2 separate regions of the Homo sapiens genome follow, and region 2 is linked to region 1. The links come from fine-mapping of genetic effects on gene expression. A gene starts in region 1. The other region holds a variant in brackets. All regions are shown on one strand. Distances are from middle to middle.

Region 1 (8,329 bases):
CCTGACCCTAGGGCAGGGCTATTTTATGAACCTTTAATTAGTGGTAAGCTTACAACAAACTGATACTGCACTTGGTTTCACCAAGCTGAAGTAAACTCTGTAAAAGATGAGGAAGTGACTTTAGCATTTGCAAATATTTCAGAATGCCTTTGTGCCAGCAAAGGTCAAACAACGATCAGAATTGCATGGATTCCAAAGTATACTTTTGGGAAATAAGAGACTCAGAGAAGCATTACTCAAGATACAATTCACTATGAATTTTCAGCAATTCAATGAAAAGTCTAAAAGAAATACATGTTTAAACTTTCCTATCCTGGTATAATATGCAATTGCACAAATAGGTTAGATTGTAGATTAATGCAATTGTTAATATTTCTAACATAGAAAAAGGAAATTGTATTTTGAAGCAAGAAGAATTAATAACAATTGGAATTGTTCAGGTTATTTTAATAATTCCCAGGCAGATACCTATGTGTATATGTGCCTGTGGGGAAAAGGTAAGGAAAAAGAGACGTGAGAAAACATACTTATGTAATTCCAGCACTTTGGGAGGCTGAGGCGGGTGGATCACTAGGTCAAGAGATTGAGACCATCCTGGCCAACATGGTGAAACCCCGTCTCTGCTAAAAATACAAAAATTAGCTGGGCATGGTGGGACCTGTAGTCCCAGCTACTCGGGAGGCTGAGACAGGTGAAGTGCTTGAGCCCGGGAGGTGGAGGTTGCAGAGAGCTGAGATTGTACCACTGCACTCCAGCCTGGGTGACAGAGCGAGACTCCATCTCAAAAACAAAAACAAAAACAAAAAATAAAAAAAAAGATTTATTATGTTTGGAAGGAGGTTATAGGTTCTGATTAATTTTTGCCAGAGACAAAAATACAAGTTTATCTAAGCTTAAGAACTAAATGATGGCCTATTGTAAGATATAGAACTTCCAACTCACTGAATAAAAAGAAGGAAAGAAGAAACAGGGGACAAATACACTTTGATGAATCCATAGAGTCACAAGGAAAAAAAAAACACACATGATAAATACATGGCAAAACAAGATGGCAAAAATAAGACCACATTTATCAGTGATCAAAATAAATATGAATGAATTAAATTCCATTGTTAAAAGACCAAGACTTTCACCCTAAATGCCCATAAATGGAAAATGGATAAATTATGGTATGTATTCCATTTTAATGGATGTGTATGTGTGTGTATGTATGTGTATGTGTGTGTATACACCACAGAAAGAGGCCCATGAGTTTCAGTTTAGAAAGATGTAGAAATATATTTGTATAAGCATAGGAAAGGGTCCAGAAAAACACACCAATATGATATCTGTGGTTGCCTATAAAGAGCAGTTTACCTATGAGTTTCAGTTTAGAAAGTTGTAGAAAAATATTTGTATAAGCATAGGAAAGGGTCCAGAAAAACACACCAATATGATATCTGTGGTTGCCTATGGAGGCTGAAGTGGACTTTCCTGTCTCACTTTACAAATGTCTATACTGTTTGAATTTATTACAAAAGCATATGACTAAAGAAACATGAAAAAATGGAATAATAAACATAAGGGCAGAATCAGCAAAATAGAGGACATAGAGGACCAAAAAAAAGGTGGTTAACAAAACTTGAAGTATTTATTTGAAAGTAGACAAACCTCTAGTGAGACTGATCAAGAATAACTGACAGAAGATTTTTTAAAAATGAGATTACAGAAAAAGGAAGAAATGACAAATAAAACAGACATTTTAAAACTTATAAAGGAATAATATAAACACATGATAATACATTTGAAAATACAGATGAAATGAATAATTTCTAGACAATAAAAATTGCCAAATTTGGCACAAAAATGTGAATAACCACTTAAGAGACTCAAATAATTTTGAAACCTCTTCCCCATAGAGTTTCAGACCCAGAAGATTTTACAAGTGCCTCCTACTAACTTCCAAGGAGCAGAAAATCTCTATCTTAATGGAGTTGCTTTAGAAAATAGAAAAAAAGAGAAAACATTGCCCAATTTGTTACTTGATTTTGAAATGTTAAATATGGACTGTACAAATAAAGAAAAATACAGGATAGTTTCACTTATAAACATAGATGTTAAACTCCTAAATAAAATATTATCTAATCAAATACGAAAGTGTATTACAAATACATCATGATAAAGTAATTCACCACATTAGTCGATTGTGGAAGAGGTTACTAGTGCTCACCAGTCTCTCGTTCTTTTCCTCCTGGGAACACCACCAGGCTACATTTCCCAGCCACCTTACAATTAGGTGAGACCCATGAGACTAGTCCATGCCAATGGAATGTGAATGGAAGTGCATCTAATTTTCTGGCTCATGAAAACAGCAGCATTTTCTCTATTTTCTTTTTTTCTTTCTTTGTTTTTTTTAGACGGAGTTTAGCTCTTGTTGCCGAGGCTGGAGTGCAGTGGCGCGATCTTGGCTCACTGCAACCTCCGCCTCCCGGGTTCAAGCAATTCTCCTACCTCAGCCTCCCAAGTAGCTGGGATTACAGGCATGTGCCACAATGCCTGGCTAATTTTGTATTTTTAGTAGAGACGGGGTTTCTCCATGTTTGTCAGGCTGGTCTCAAACTCCCGACCTCAGGTAATCAGCCCGCCTCGGCCTCCTGAAGTGCTGGGATTACAGGCGTGAGCCACCGTGCCCGGCAAGAGCAGCATTTTCTAAAAGCAATCAGTACTCAACACCATCCTGCTGAGGTAGGGCAGCGGCGGACTCCATGTTTTGAAACTTAGGAACTTAGACCATCTTTTGTCAAATTCAGATGGTTTTCTCAAAGTAAAGATCATTCAAGTTTTGTTTCAGTAATGGGCCGTATGATCAGATCTGTGTGATTAGGCTGAATTCATTATTATTGAGACAAAAATTGAGTTAAAGGGGATTCTTGGTATTGGCCTGCAAAACCTGTCATAACTTAAATGTAAAGTTTCTGATGATTTAGTCACTTTACTCTCAGCTCTTAGCTCTTTCACTCACCTGTCCTTGTTCTACACAACCTGCCTGATGGGTAACTTGAATACATATTTTCTCTCTTCAGGGGATGGGAACGCCCTAAGGGCAGGGGCTGTTTCCACAGCCCTGGGGTGGAACCCCCTTCCTGCATACCAAGAATGAGTTGGCTATACTTGACGAAGGGCAAAGACAAGGTGGCACGCATCTTTCATGCTTCTGCTGGCAGATGCAGTGGACTGGAAATTTCCTGGTCTGGGAAGGACTCGGTCTGTGAGTGCACCTATCCCTGACATCTATGCTAGCCCCGGGATGGGGGCCCCAGCAGAGTAAGGCCCTGACTTCACATGGACAGGGCCAGGGCAAGGGGGCCACATCCTGGCCTAGTTGCTCTCCATGCCCGTGATCAAGGGAGATGAGCTGCCAGCTTGCTCGGTCAAGGAACACTTGGAAGGCACTCCAAGTGCCCCCAGGTGCACCAGATCTAGGAAACTTAAGCAAACTACATGAGGTATGGGGTGGGGCCCAGTGGGAAAAATGAGTCTGACAGGTCAGAGGGAGTAGATTATGAGCTCAGGTTAGGCATTCTGTTCAGCATTTTACGTACACCCTCCCACTTTTGATTTTTACCAACACCCAGGGAGGTCGGTGCTCTACAAAAGGGAAAGGCGTGCTCAGGTGGCCCGACTTGCCACGGTTCCAGCTCGACCCCGGGCTGCTAGCCCCTTGGCACGCTTGTCTGAGGCCTCCCAGGTCTTCCAGCCTGGCCTGGAGGCTCAAAGCCACGAAACCCAAGGGTGCCGCTTCTCAGGCCCTCCCCGCCCCCACGGCAGAACCCCTGACCCTGCCCGGGTCAAACGCCTGGCGTCGGGCCCGCCGGGTCCGCAAGGAGGAGCCCGCGAGGCGGCCGCGAAGGGGCTGTGCTTACCTCGCCCGGCGCGGGTTGCGGCCCCAGGGCCCGCGCTCCAGGCTGGCGGCCGCTGCATTCTGCGCCCCTCGCCTGAAACGGCAGCTGCGCCAGTCCTGGCCACGACCGCTTTCATTTTCCTCAACGACATCGGCAGGAAAGCGAAAGCGAAACCCTCCGGGAGGCGGGACCGGGGCCGAGCGCGCAGTGAACGCGGGGCGCGCGGCGGGCGCGGGCCGGCAGCCAGAGGCGGGGGCCCCGGGCTCGGGTCTGCGCGTGGCCTGGCCCGGTGGCGTTCGGGGTGGAGCTGGGCCAGCCGAGTGCCCGAGAGCTAGTCCGCCACGCACACCTGCCTCGGCGGGACCCGGGCCCGGGCTGGGCGGGAGGCTGGGCAGGCCCGCCGTAAGTGGAAAGGCGCCCGCGGCGCTTCGGCCGACCGGGACAGGTTCCTCCATCTGCCCTTCATTCAGCGTTTACTTGGGCCTGTGGCTGGCAGCCGGCCCGGGACCTGACCGCTGGCGGCGCCTCGGGCTCTGGCCTGAGGAGGCAGATGGCAGCCTGAGCAACTGGGACCAAGCCTCTGAGGAGTCCCCGTTGGAGGGGACTTGACCATGAGGTACCAGGCATCTCATCTGGGGTCAGCGGAGAACCCAAAAGTCAATGACGTCGGTGAAATGGGGGTCCCTTCATCCGATAAGAGAAACTGGAACAGCAAGCCTATGGTTTGGACTCCCTGGTCTAAGCGGTGCCCATCAATATCTAAACATTTAGAGATTCCAGGTTTCAGTGTCTGGCCGTCTCTTACTGTCAGTGATTTGGGGCAAAATATTCAAGTAGTTAGACTTAATTACTTCCCCTGTGGGATGGGAATAATAATAATCATACCTACTGCCAGAATTTTAGGAATGAACAATAGAAGGAAGAAAATACTTAAAATTTTCTGACAGCCTCTAAGTGGGTTCCTTGAGGGCAGCAACCAAGTCATTTACCTGGATGCTTGATAGACATTCTCTAATGGCCAGTCCATCAACTTGGAGCTATCTCCATGATAACAGGTTAGTTGTCAAAGTTTGGACAATATTATCTGGAGTTTAAAGACTGAGGAAGCCCTGCAATTTTTTTTGGAAGGTGTCTGAAACTTAGCCTGACAATTAGCCCCCACAATTATGCCACGGAACCAGGTTTTTGTTAGAGTGGAGCATGGCCACAACGTTTGATGGACATTCCTACAGCGGTGTTCAGCGCTGGCCACTGAGGTCTGAAAATACTTTTGCAAGCATTTCTATTCACTTGCTTTTAGAAAACATTGGTAAGACACCATACTCCAAACACAGTTTGCCCTGTCTGTACGTTTGTTGCAAAGCAAACATAAAAGTTTTTGCCATAGAGCAAACACAGAGCAGTCTGTTATAACTGGAACAAGAAACCAAAATGAGCTATTAAATCTGCCCAGAGTCACTTTGGTTTACCTGTTTGTAATTTGGGCACATTCCCTGCAAGATGGAGGCCCTGGTCTGTGACTGATGTAGGGGCTTGTATGTGTCCTTGCAATAGTTCCCTCAAGAGCAGGTGGGAAAGTGGGGCAGGCCAAATGATGACCTTAGAAAAACAACAGCCTGTTTCTCTGTCCAGAAGATGCTACTTTTAGTCTGTAGTATGAAGGAAAAAGAAAAAACAAAAAAGGCAAGCCTTGGAGCCTCTTCCTCCTTATAGGACAATTCTTGACTCCAAGATAGCAAAGTAGAGTTAAATCTGCTTCTGCATAAAAACTATGTTTGGGAAGATGAAGATCAGGAAAAGACAGGAAGAGATGTAAGCAGATAAGCCAAATCCTGGTTACCTTTTATAGACATCACACATGTGAACAGAGAGCATCAGGAGGTCAAGGCCGGCCTGATGTTTTTCATCTTGGCAACTTCCCAAGGTCCAGGTTTGGTCCTTGACTTTGTGGGGCCAAAAATCTCATCTGACTTCCAGTGTACCAGAGTCGATTAGCACTGTTGCATAAAGTCAGAATGACAACTGACTGATTTCATTCACTATTTGCTAGAGAAGTGCTATGCTAAATGCATTACATGCATTATTACCTCATTATTTCTCCCTACTATCATGTGGTATATTATAATCTATTTATTTTTCATTTGGGAGAAAAAAAGATGAAGGAAATCCCAAGGTCACATAGTTACTATGTATGTTAGTGGCAGGGTTTGAATCAAGGCCATCTGACCCCAAAACCTGAAGCTTATCCATTCCTGTTAGAAGCAAGACTGTCGGGAACACTGGACTCGAGGCCACCTGATGAACACATTCTCTTCTTGTAGCCATGCAGTTTGGAGCCCCATAGTCAGAAGGTGGCTTAGTGAGCCTAAAATCAGAATCGGAAGAGTGAATTGTCTGACTTAAATGTTTGATGATATCAGGCTCGGGCAATGTGGGATGTCTCTTTCCACAACACAGGTCAAAACCTATAGGAAGTACTGTTCACTCATCCCTGCTGGCCTGGCCAGCCCTTCTCCCTAGATGGGGCCTGGTGGACACCATCTGTTTGTGTCGATGAGGCTCTCTGTATTATGGTACCCAGGCCGCCTCTCCTCAGATGGACATTTTTAGATAGAGCAAGGCGTTACTGAGTAACATTACTCAGTAAGGTCTCTCAGCCCTTATTTTTCTTTATGGAGACATTTTGTATCTTTGCTCTGATTGGCTTGATTTATAATTTAACTTCTAAAGGACAGCTTTCTATCCCACCTTTTGGAGACAGCTCTGTTTTCCTTACTATCCTTCCTGATCTAACCCTGGAACAAAAGTTTGTGCAGTAGCAAGTTCTGCAACAAGAACTTTATCCAGGCCTGCACTGATAGTCAGTAAAGACACAAAAGAAGCAAAAGTCCAAGTCCAAGGCCAGTCCCAAAAGACTTTACTACAGAATCGGGCAATGGAGGGTTGGGGGGCGGGGCACAGCTGATGATCACGCAACCCAGCTGAAGAATGATATAAATGGAATGAAAGCATGGTGCAAGCAGCATCTAACTTAGGAGTCACTGGTTAGGAAAAAAAAATACCTGATGTGTGATTCAGATAAAAATGAAAAAAATAACCCTTTTAGATATTTCATTCAACAAATATTCTGTGGCAACTACAAAATGCAGCCACCCTGCTAATGCTGGGGATTCAGTGATGAGCAAAAATAAATGTGGTCTCTGCCCTCGGGAAACACACTTGAGTGAGGTAATAAAGCAATCAAATAATTGGTCAAATATAGAATGCCATCCTAAATACTACAAGATGCATTTGACGCTATAAGAGGGAATGCCAGAGGCAAAACTCCTCTAATGGGCCACCTGTACTCTGGGGCTTCCTGTCAGTCTGGCCAGCACTTTCTCAGAATGGCTCTGCAGTCTGAGGCTCTTCCTATCTACTCCTCCATCCTTCCCTCTTCTCTTTCACAGGGGTCAGACCTGCATTACGGTGTGGGGCTCTCTCTGCTTACTCTTGCTTCTGCTCCTCTTTATTCTTCATAGGCATTTTCCCCAATAAACTCTTCCAGGTTTAATTCCATCTTGGTGTCTGCTCTAGGAGGACCCAAGCTGACACAATGATGCCCTTCATTGACTTGGAGAACCTTGGAAGAGGCCCAAGTTTTGGAGGGCTCCAATTCTGCACATGTTGGCTTAGGTGTCAGGTGGGCAAGGAAGCTCCATATCTGCTTTCCCACTCAGAAGATAATGCTTGTGCTTTGGTACTAAGCTATCAACCATGTCCTCTGTGGGAGCTAGGGTCTGGTCTTGTTTTTAAAATGCTTGTTCCATGGATAATCAGCAATTCTCAGTTTAGATCTCAATACTAGAACTATTTCCCTCTAGAAAAGCACAACCTACCAATAGCAAAAAACATCCCTTAACTTCCTTGAGGAGGAGTTAAAAGTCAAAAAATCGAAAGGAGATGAGCAATTGTTCCTGAACAGCCAAAGGGAAATAATTTTGATGTAGGGGGGCCCTTAGTTTTCTGGGAAAAGGAAGTCTTTTTTTTTTTTTTTGAGATGGAGTTTTGCTCTTGTTCCCCAGGCTGGAATGTGATGGTGTGGTCTTGGCTCACTACAATCTCTGCCTCCCAGGTTCAAGTGATTCTTCTACCTCAGCCTCCCAAGTAGCTGGGATTACAGGCACCCGCCACCACACCTGGCTAATTTTTGTATTTTTAGTAGAGACGGGGTTTCCTTATGTTGGCCAAGCTGGTGGCGAACTCCAGACCTCAGGTGATCCACCCACCTCAGCCTCCCAAAGTGCTGGGATTACAGGTGTGAGTCACTGCACCCGGCCTGGAAGTCATCTTTTATAAGTGTTCCTTAAGGAAAGAACTTACATGTTTGGCAGCACAGATGGAAATCTGTCATTGTTGGTAGAAAGAAGCTAGCACTCCAAAAGGCACTTTTGCTCTGAGCTTAGCCT
Region 2 (8,329 bases), 67 kb before region 1:
CAATAACTATTGGTGCTGAATACCAGCCCTGCAGTGTAGCATGAGACAGGTCCATGCACACATGCATTAGGAAAACACCTTCATGAAGCAGGATTCTGCCTGGGCTGATGCACACAACCTCTATGGAGGGTAAACAGTGTTTCTGAAGACCGTAGTTTGGGAACCCCTGACATATGACAATGCCCCCTTAGATAAGCTCAAGTTACAGGAATGTCTGAGGGTGGAAGGTGTGGATATGTGCTTTTCCTGTCTCCCTCTTCAGTGTCTGGCCATGGGGCATAAACACTACCCAGCAGTAGGTAGGCTGGCCAAGAGAAGCCAGCTTGCATCACCAGCATCATCTAGGGAATGGAATCATGGCAGTAATACGTTGCTTAGGAAACAAAAGCTCTATGGACACATCTTCCACCTTCTCAGTCCCAGAAACCATATGTACTGTGACCCCGCTCACTAGGCCCAGCCCTCGGGAAGAGTGTGGGCCCTTGAAAAGGGAAGACTGAGTGAGAAAATGATGAGAAAACTACAAAATGGGCAGAGGTCAGTCTGACACATTCATTCTCTGTCAAGCTCAGGAAGTACTGGTCCCTGATCTTGGAGATGCTGTGTGAGTGGCAGGGGGACTCCTGCTGGGTAAATATTCTATATGTGGATGCCTGGACAGGCCCCTATCCCAGGCCCTGCTTGTCAGAAGCTCCCCTTGGGCCGAGCGCGGTGGCTCACACTTGTAATCTTGGCACTTTGGGAGGCCGAGGCAGGTGGATTGCCTGAGTTCAGGAGTTCAAAACCAGGCTGGGCAACATGGTGAAACCCTGTCTCTACTAAAAAAAAACTAACCAGGCGTGGTGGTGCATGCCTGTAATTCCAGCTACTAGGGAGGCTGAGGCAGGCCAATCACTTGAACCCAGGAGGTGGAGGTTGCAGTGAGCTGAGATCACGCCACTGCACTCTAGCCTGGGCAACAGAGCGAGACTCTGTCTCAAAAAAAAAAAAAAAAAAGAAGTTCTACTTGGAAGCTCCACTTGGATTTCTCAAGAATAGCTTCACCTGGGAACAGAGGAATAGACAGGATGGACTTTTCCAGCTCCTTCAGGGACCAGCCCTTTTTAAGATTTGGATTGAGGTGGCTAGCCACCTGTGGCTTCCATCTGGGTTCTCCTAGTGGGTGATGGCAGGTGGTGCAGAGCAAGGTAGAGTGGACTGACGGGAGGAAAGTGATACCACCCAGAACAAGCAGCAGCTCTGACTTCTTTTTCTCCTGCCCTTCAATCTAATCCCTGATGGAGGGTAGGCAGTGAGTATGTGAAGTCTTAGGCAGCTGTGGAAATCTCTCAAGTTCTAAAAGCAAAGTTAATTGCTTGTAAATTACCAAAAAGAGAGAGGAATTATGTCCATCAGCTTCCAATCTCCACAACCAAGATGTAGTCCTCAATTTCCCCATCCCCTCTGATCCCAGGAGTCCTAAATGATTGGTAGCAATTGCTTGGAATCTCCAGGGAGGGACCTCAAAACTCTCCCCTGGCCCCCATCACAATGGAGCTGGGTCCTAGGGACCAAGCCTGGAGTAGTGTGGGATAGAGCCAGACCTTTCAGGATGGAGAGCTGTCCCATCACATCCTACCAAGACTTCAGCCTTTTCCTAGGAAAAGAAACTAAATAAGGTCTGACAGCTCACCTAAAGGTGATGGCAGCTGACACTACCGAGTCATTAGCCAAACAGTGCCTGAAACGGAGCAGTATTAGTAAGATCTGAACCAAGTTTGTGCTTAATAATTAGATCATTCTAAGGACCTGACAGTGCTTCTGTGGGTCATTCTCAAGAGTTTCAGTATAAGCACTAATGGTGGAAGTTCTAGGTTGAGGGAGCTAGGAGGTTGTTGAAAGATCTGTTTTGCTGGGGTTGTGATGAGATAACTGTCATCAAGGACCACTTTCCACTGGGGTAAACTGACAAAAGTGGTGCTCAGCCACACCAGCTAGATTTCTCATGTTGGGCCAAGTTTACAGACATTTGCGGGCATTTGTGGTTAGTCATGGGTTTCCTTGCCTTAACTCCAAAAGGGTATAGCTGGCTGGTCACTTTCATTGGGCTGGTTTATTCATTCAGCTCACTTGGCAATAGGAAGAAAGCTAGAAGCTAATAGGCAAACCATCCCTTCTTGGTGTGTCAGCTTTCAACATCTCTCAGTGCACTGTGTGCAGGGTGTTGTGACCATTACAACTCCAAAGGAAAGAGCTTTCTCTGATTTTTCTGGAAGTCTCCAGTGGGGCCTGCCAAAGTGGGAACTGAAATCCTGGGGTAGCCCTGGGAAGTGGAGTTTTTTTCTCTAGGAGTGATGTCTCCTGGTTGGTGGGGCTGGGAAACAGCCAGGTTGTCATTCTCTGGGACCACTTGATCTTTCACACTGTGTACAGATCCAAAACTCTGCCCTTATACTTGGAGGGGAAAGGGGGTACAGATGTCCTCCAGGCAGTCCTGTTGGAGCACCCAGGGCTAATATAGTGACCCTATAGAAAGCTTTTGTCTCTGTCAGATGTAATGCTGTTCCTTAACTTGGGCACAACTGATCTTCCAATTCATCAGAACTCAGCACTAACCTTTCCCCAGTTCTGCTGGCTGTCACAGAGGAAGGAGGCCTGGGGTGGGAGAAGGGGAAGCTGGTGCCCTCCTTTTCCAGGGGTGAAAGTACTTGGCAGGGTGGAGCTTGGCTTTATCATCCGGAGCTCCCTTGTGGGGCCAAGTCTAAGGCCTCAGAAGGGTATAGCTGGCTGGCCGCATAGTTTTCCTAGCTCCAGGCAGCTCTCAAGAGACCCATTTATGCTGGTTTTCTCAGGGTAAGGAGTTACAGAAGTCCACCTCTGCTGGCTCAGTGGTAAGACACAAGCCTGCAGAGTCTGCTGAGTGAAACTTCAGCTGGGGAGATACTGGAGGCTATGGAGCAAGGACATGGGGACTGAATGAAAGAGGGGAGGCAGACGTCCAGCCCACCATTCCTCACCCAAGGAGATGATCCCACAAGCTCACAAATGAGCAGAACTGGAAAAGACCTCAAAGTGTGGCTGGATAATGGCAACACAGGCCTCGAGTGCTCACTTTGTGCTGGGTGCTATGCCAAGCACCACGTGTGTACCACGGCACTGGCACCCCACCACGGCCCTTGTTCACAGACCAGGAAACCAACTCTCACCACCTAATCAGTATGGAGCCTTGGTTCCAACCCACATCATCTATCTGTGCCCAGAATCCAGGTTGGTTCCATATCAGGCTGCCTGAGAGAAGAACACGGAGGCCTGCACAAGAAGCTGGGGAGAGCTAGCAAGGGGCAGGGCCCGAGCACCTTATGCCAAGCAAGCACTTGTGGATGCTGAGGGAAGGCGGCAAAAGCTGCAGCTGCTGTGCTGCCCTGCCTTCAGCTCTCCTCCCTTCCCCCAGCACACACACCTTCCAACACCCCTGGCAACATGGCTCTGCCGCTACAGGCCCCAGGGCCCCAACAGGGTAGGGTTTGCCCCACCTATGCCCTGGAGGCCACCTGCAGTTTCGAAGGGTGGGGCCCCAGGGGGCCGAGACACAGACAGGCTTGTAACTTGGCCTCAGTGCAGGGGGCAGCTTGGCCACACCAGGCCTGTTTGGAGCAAACGGGGGACTCTGGCCTGCTAGGCCTTATCTCAGCTCCCAGGATCAAAGAGGACTTTTTAGCCATGTTTCTGTCTCAGCAAGACAACCTAGTCTCCTGTTCTGCTTTAAACCAGACCCTCTGTTGGGTCCTGGAGTTCCTCAGAGGTCTGGACCCTGGATGGCTGTGAGACTCAGGACCATGCACAGATGCATTCTCATTCCCAGCCACCAGGCTCGGGTCAGACCCTATGGCTCTGGTGGGCCTAATTCCTGGTTTCTTGATCCCTGAGAACACCTGGCACCTCTGGCTGCTGGCCAGTTGCCACCTTACATCAGGCGGGCGCTGGGATTCACCTGCAGGCTTCCTTTAGGGAAGGCCCTCCCCTGCCCTCCTGTGCCAGCCCAGAGGGGCAGCCTGGGTGAGGTCTTCACATCCATTTCGGGCCAAATGCCTTGGATTGGCTGGATCCCCTCCTGTTTCTGCCCTCCTT[CTTT/T]CCTTCAAAGCAACAAGGTTGTGGGGGTGTCCAGTTCTGCTACCACCTCTCCCTCACACTGTCAATCTGGAATTTGTCCAGAATTGGGGCCCAAGTAGTGAGTTCTTACACAGTGGTTAAACAAACAAACAAACAAAAACCCCACACAACTCAGCTACACCTTGGCTCAGAGAGGCCATGGGATATACCGAGGATCTCAGATCAGGAGGGAGGCCCCTGGAGAGGTGTGGCGGGGATCATGTGCTTCTCTGGTTTCTTGGAGAAAGCTGACTTTGTGTAACAAGGGAGGCATATGGACATGGAGTTGGTGTTTGGGGATGTGGGAACCATTAGGCCAGAATTACAAGAAGTCCTGTCATGTCGGCCACACTAGGGCAACAGTGGACTGGGGCAGGGGCTGATGACCTGATTGTGGAGGCAGTGGAGGGCTGTTTCTGCTGGGGACCCAGGGCTCCCCTCCAAGTGCTCCTGCTTGGCTTGTTGGGATGGGGAGAGGAGCTGGAGTTGGGATGGGGAGAGGAGCTGGAGTTGGGATGGGTCACAGCGAAGGCTACAGCCTGGCATTCCCATATGGGGTAGGGGTGGGGTGGGGTGGGACAGGGAGGAGGACCTGAAGGGGTGTCCAACTTTCCGAGACTTGGAACAGCCTGGTGAGTGTTCATCACCATTCTTCTGTCATAGGTGGCGAGCAGCCAGAGTTCTGGGCACAGGAGACCATCTACCCCCAAGCTTGTGCGGCCTGCCTCAGGTCACTGAAGAGGACCCCATTTTTGGTCTTTGGCCATCCTAAGACTTGTACAATGGAGCCCTGGGGCCCTCCCTTCTCTGACCAGTGACAGCCCTCACAGGCAAAGCCTCACCCTCTAGGGCCTGTCCCTTCCTGTCTGCCAGTCCCCACAGGGTCTGCGGGGTACCCAATCTCGCCAACCAGACTGGAAGCTCCCCAGGGGCAAGCAGCTTATCTCTTCCATATTCTCACAGTGTTCAGCCAGGATTGGCACTTCAGAGCATCTCCTGCTGCTCAGCAGAGATGTAGTTAGCATCTCTCTATAGTAGCACTTTCTGAGTCCCTCCCCTGGGGGAACCAGGCTAGACTCTGGGGTCCAGAGGAGCAGGCAGGCTGAGAGGCAAAAAGGGCACAGAGGAATAACCAACCCTGCCCCTGCAGTAGAGCCCTGGGCAAAACAGGCCATGACCAACCAGCAGCCAAGGTCAAAGTCCCCAGAACAAGGGCCAGTGTGTGCATGACATGCAGCATGACCGCTTGTCTCTTTTCGGCAGTACTGGAGATAGAAGGCTGAGTCATTAACAACTTTCTTTTATTAAAAATGTACATAAGTAAAAGGAACATGGTTTAATTGTGCAAAGAGTAAGAAATACAGATGAGCAAATAACACGTATTAAAGCCACCTACGATATACCACCCAGAAGTAACCAGGCTGTTGAATTTTTAGAGACTGGGGTGCAAACACATTTTTTCACTCCCTTGTGCATATATCTGGGAGCTCTGCCATATACAGACACAGACGCGGTGTCCACAGGCGATGCCTCTGCTGGGAATGCTGCAAGCAGGAGTCTATCCTTTCCTGGTACTGGCTCGGGGGCCCTCCTCAGCGCCCAGGTCACTCTAGCATCCAGGAGTCCAAAGGCCCGGCTGTGCAGGCTGCAGAGGTGATCTAGAGTAGATTAGGAGGTGCAAAAGGCTTGGAGATAGGCTGACCAACTGTTCCAGTTTGCTTAGGACTGAGGAGTTTCCCAGGATTTGGGACTTTCAGTGCTAAAACTGGGAAAGTCCCAGGCAAACCAGGGCCAGTTGGTCACCCTCCCTGAGGGCCAAAGGCTTTGTCCTGCCCCTCCTGCCCTGTGCTCCCCATCTGCCCTCCTGCTGGGGTTCTGGATCCCCCATCCCCACACCAAGCAGCCCAGGGACAGAGGCCTGGCTGGGGCCTTGCCTCCCGTGGAAGCTCCTGAAAGTTCCAGCCTGAGGCCTAGGGAGGGACAGGGGAAAGGGAATAAATTAAGGCAGACAGTCTGTCATCACCCAAGAAAAGGGCCAGGTGAACTGTGGCTGTTAAGGGCAGCTAGGGATGTACAAGCAGAAGGGTTCCAATACTTGGCTGGCCACCCCTCCAGCCCTGGAGCTGAGTGTGTGGTCCCCAGAGGCCCCAGAGCCAGAGAAGTGCAGGGTGTCTGGATTGAAAGGCCTCAGCTCCCTGGGCTCCCAGAGCCCTGGTGCCTCAGGCCTTACCTTCCCCCTCCTCCATCTCCACACCCCCTGGCACTTCCTGCTCAGCTCTTCTCTACCTAAGACTGGGAGCAGAGGATGAAGGAAGAGGAATCCAGGACAGACCGAGCTGAAAGAGGAGCAGGCAGGTGGGAGGGGACTTAGGTAGAAAGGACCTCTCTGATAGTGGCGGGAACATCCTGACTGTGGTCTGGCCCAGCCGGCTGTCTATGCCTGAGGATGCCTGAGGATGGGGGGCCCTTGGAAAACTCAGAAGAGAGGCTAGGTGTGGAAGGCAGAGTATTGGTCCACAGTGGAATAAAGAGGTCCACGTCCTAATGCATGAGCCTATGAATATGTTGCTACATGGCAAAGAGGAATTAAAACTGCAGATGGAATTAAGGTTGCTAACCAGCTCACTTGCAAATAGAGAGATTACCCTGGATTATTGGTGTGGGCCCAGTGTAATCACAAGGGTTCTTAAATGAAGAAGGAGGAGGCAGAAGGGTCAGAACCAGAGAGATCGCATTGTGAAAAACCTGACCAGCCAGTGCTGGCTTTGAAAGTGGAGGAAGGGGTTGCAGGCCAAGGAATGCAGGCAGCCTCTAAAAGCTGGAAAGGGAAAGGAAGGAAAGGGATTCTCCACTAGAGCCCCCAGGAAGAAATGCAGCTCTGTTGACACCTTGAGTTTAGCCCAGTGAGACCTGTTTTGGACTTCTGACTACAGAACTATAAGAAAAGAAACGGGCCAGGTGCAGTGGCTTACACCTGTAATCCTAGCACTTTGGGAGGCTGAGGCAGGCAGATTGCTTGTGCCCAGGAGTTTGAGACCAGCCAGGGCAACATAGTGAGACCCTGTCTCTATAAAGTATACAAAAAATTAGCCAGGTGTGGTAGCACGTGCCTTTAGTCCTGGCTACTTGGGAGGCTGAGGTAGGAGGATGGCCTGAGCCCAGGAGGGAGAGGTTGCAGTGAGTCAAGATTGAGCCACTGCACTCCAGCCTGAGTGACAGAGCAAGACCCTGTATCCAAAAAAATAAATAAATAAATAAAAAATTGTGTTGTTTTAAGCCCCTGTTTATGATAATTTGTTAGAGCAGCAATAGGAAACTGATCCACTGGGAAACCATTTGGGGGATGCAGCTGCCCAAAATCCCTGCACGTGGGTTGGACTCAGCCTCACAAGGCTCTACAGCCTCTCTGTGAAAGACTCCATTCCCTCTGGGAGAAGCTCAGACTCTAAAGCCCTGGGCAGGGAATGGGCCTCCATGGCATGGAGGGGGTCAAGAAGGATGCCCCCCAGGATAGTGCCTCTGCTGGACCTCTCTATAGGAAGCAGCTGCCTCTTTGAGCCCCCTCCCCAAACCTCAGTGAGCTGAGGTGCTGGCTCTGAGTGGTCATGGAGGGGCTTGCCTGAGGTCAGGCCACCTAGGACAGCTAGTCAGAGGCCACAGGGCTTGGCTTAAGATTCCCAGGAAGGAGTTGCATGGCCCCTCCACACATCCACAATACTCATAACACTCTCAGTCCTTGGCCTTACTAAGGGAATACTAAGGGGACTCAGTTTAGCTCTGGAAAAGCTAGGACTACTGGAAAAAAAAGTATAGAGGAAAAAAAATAGTTACTGGATGCCAGCCAGATCTGCAAAAAGTCCCCACTCTGCCACTTACTAGCTATGTGGCCTCAAATAAGCCACTAGATCTTTTGTAGCCTCAGTTTCTTCATCTGTAAAATGGGTATAACATCATTTGTCTTATCTGTCTCACAGGGTGTGTGAGTCTCAGGTGAGATAACACACGAGAAAACATTGTGCCGCACAACTTGAGATGCAAACAGTAACGATCACAACCCCACATGCCTTTTGATAGGGTGAATGATCACAGCATCCTGTGTTAGGGAGGAAAGGGTGAGCACAGACGCTTCAAAACTCTGTCTTACCCACAGGCAGAAGGGTGTAGCCTGGCCAGGGGAGAAAAGGACCCAGCCACTGCCACC

The links. PIP is the estimated chance that this variant, and not a neighbour inherited with it, causes the effect.
Region 2: its variant is the best candidate, but not a certain one, in a credible set for the expression of CARINH in whole blood (INTERVAL, PIP 0.79).

The regions. Positions count from the first base shown.
Region 1 is chr5:132,406,615-132,414,943 of GRCh38, reverse strand. It overlaps CARINH (colitis associated IRF1 antisense regulator of intestinal homeostasis), which reads right to left and starts at 4,015. Exons shown (of 4, transcript NR_161242.1): 1 at 3,903-4,015. RefSeq lists silencers at 3,717-4,006, 4,077-4,376 and an enhancer at 4,617-4,666.
Region 2 is chr5:132,473,124-132,481,452 of GRCh38, reverse strand. CARINH (colitis associated IRF1 antisense regulator of intestinal homeostasis) reads right to left here. Exons shown (of 4, transcript NR_161242.1): 4 at 5,409-5,786. Among named protein-coding and RNA genes, the nearest start is that of IRF1, 13 kb to the left of the region's middle. RefSeq lists enhancers at 1,872-2,121, 2,132-2,181 and a silencer at 8,142-8,221. The variant CTTT/T (reference allele first, on the strand shown) is at 4,108.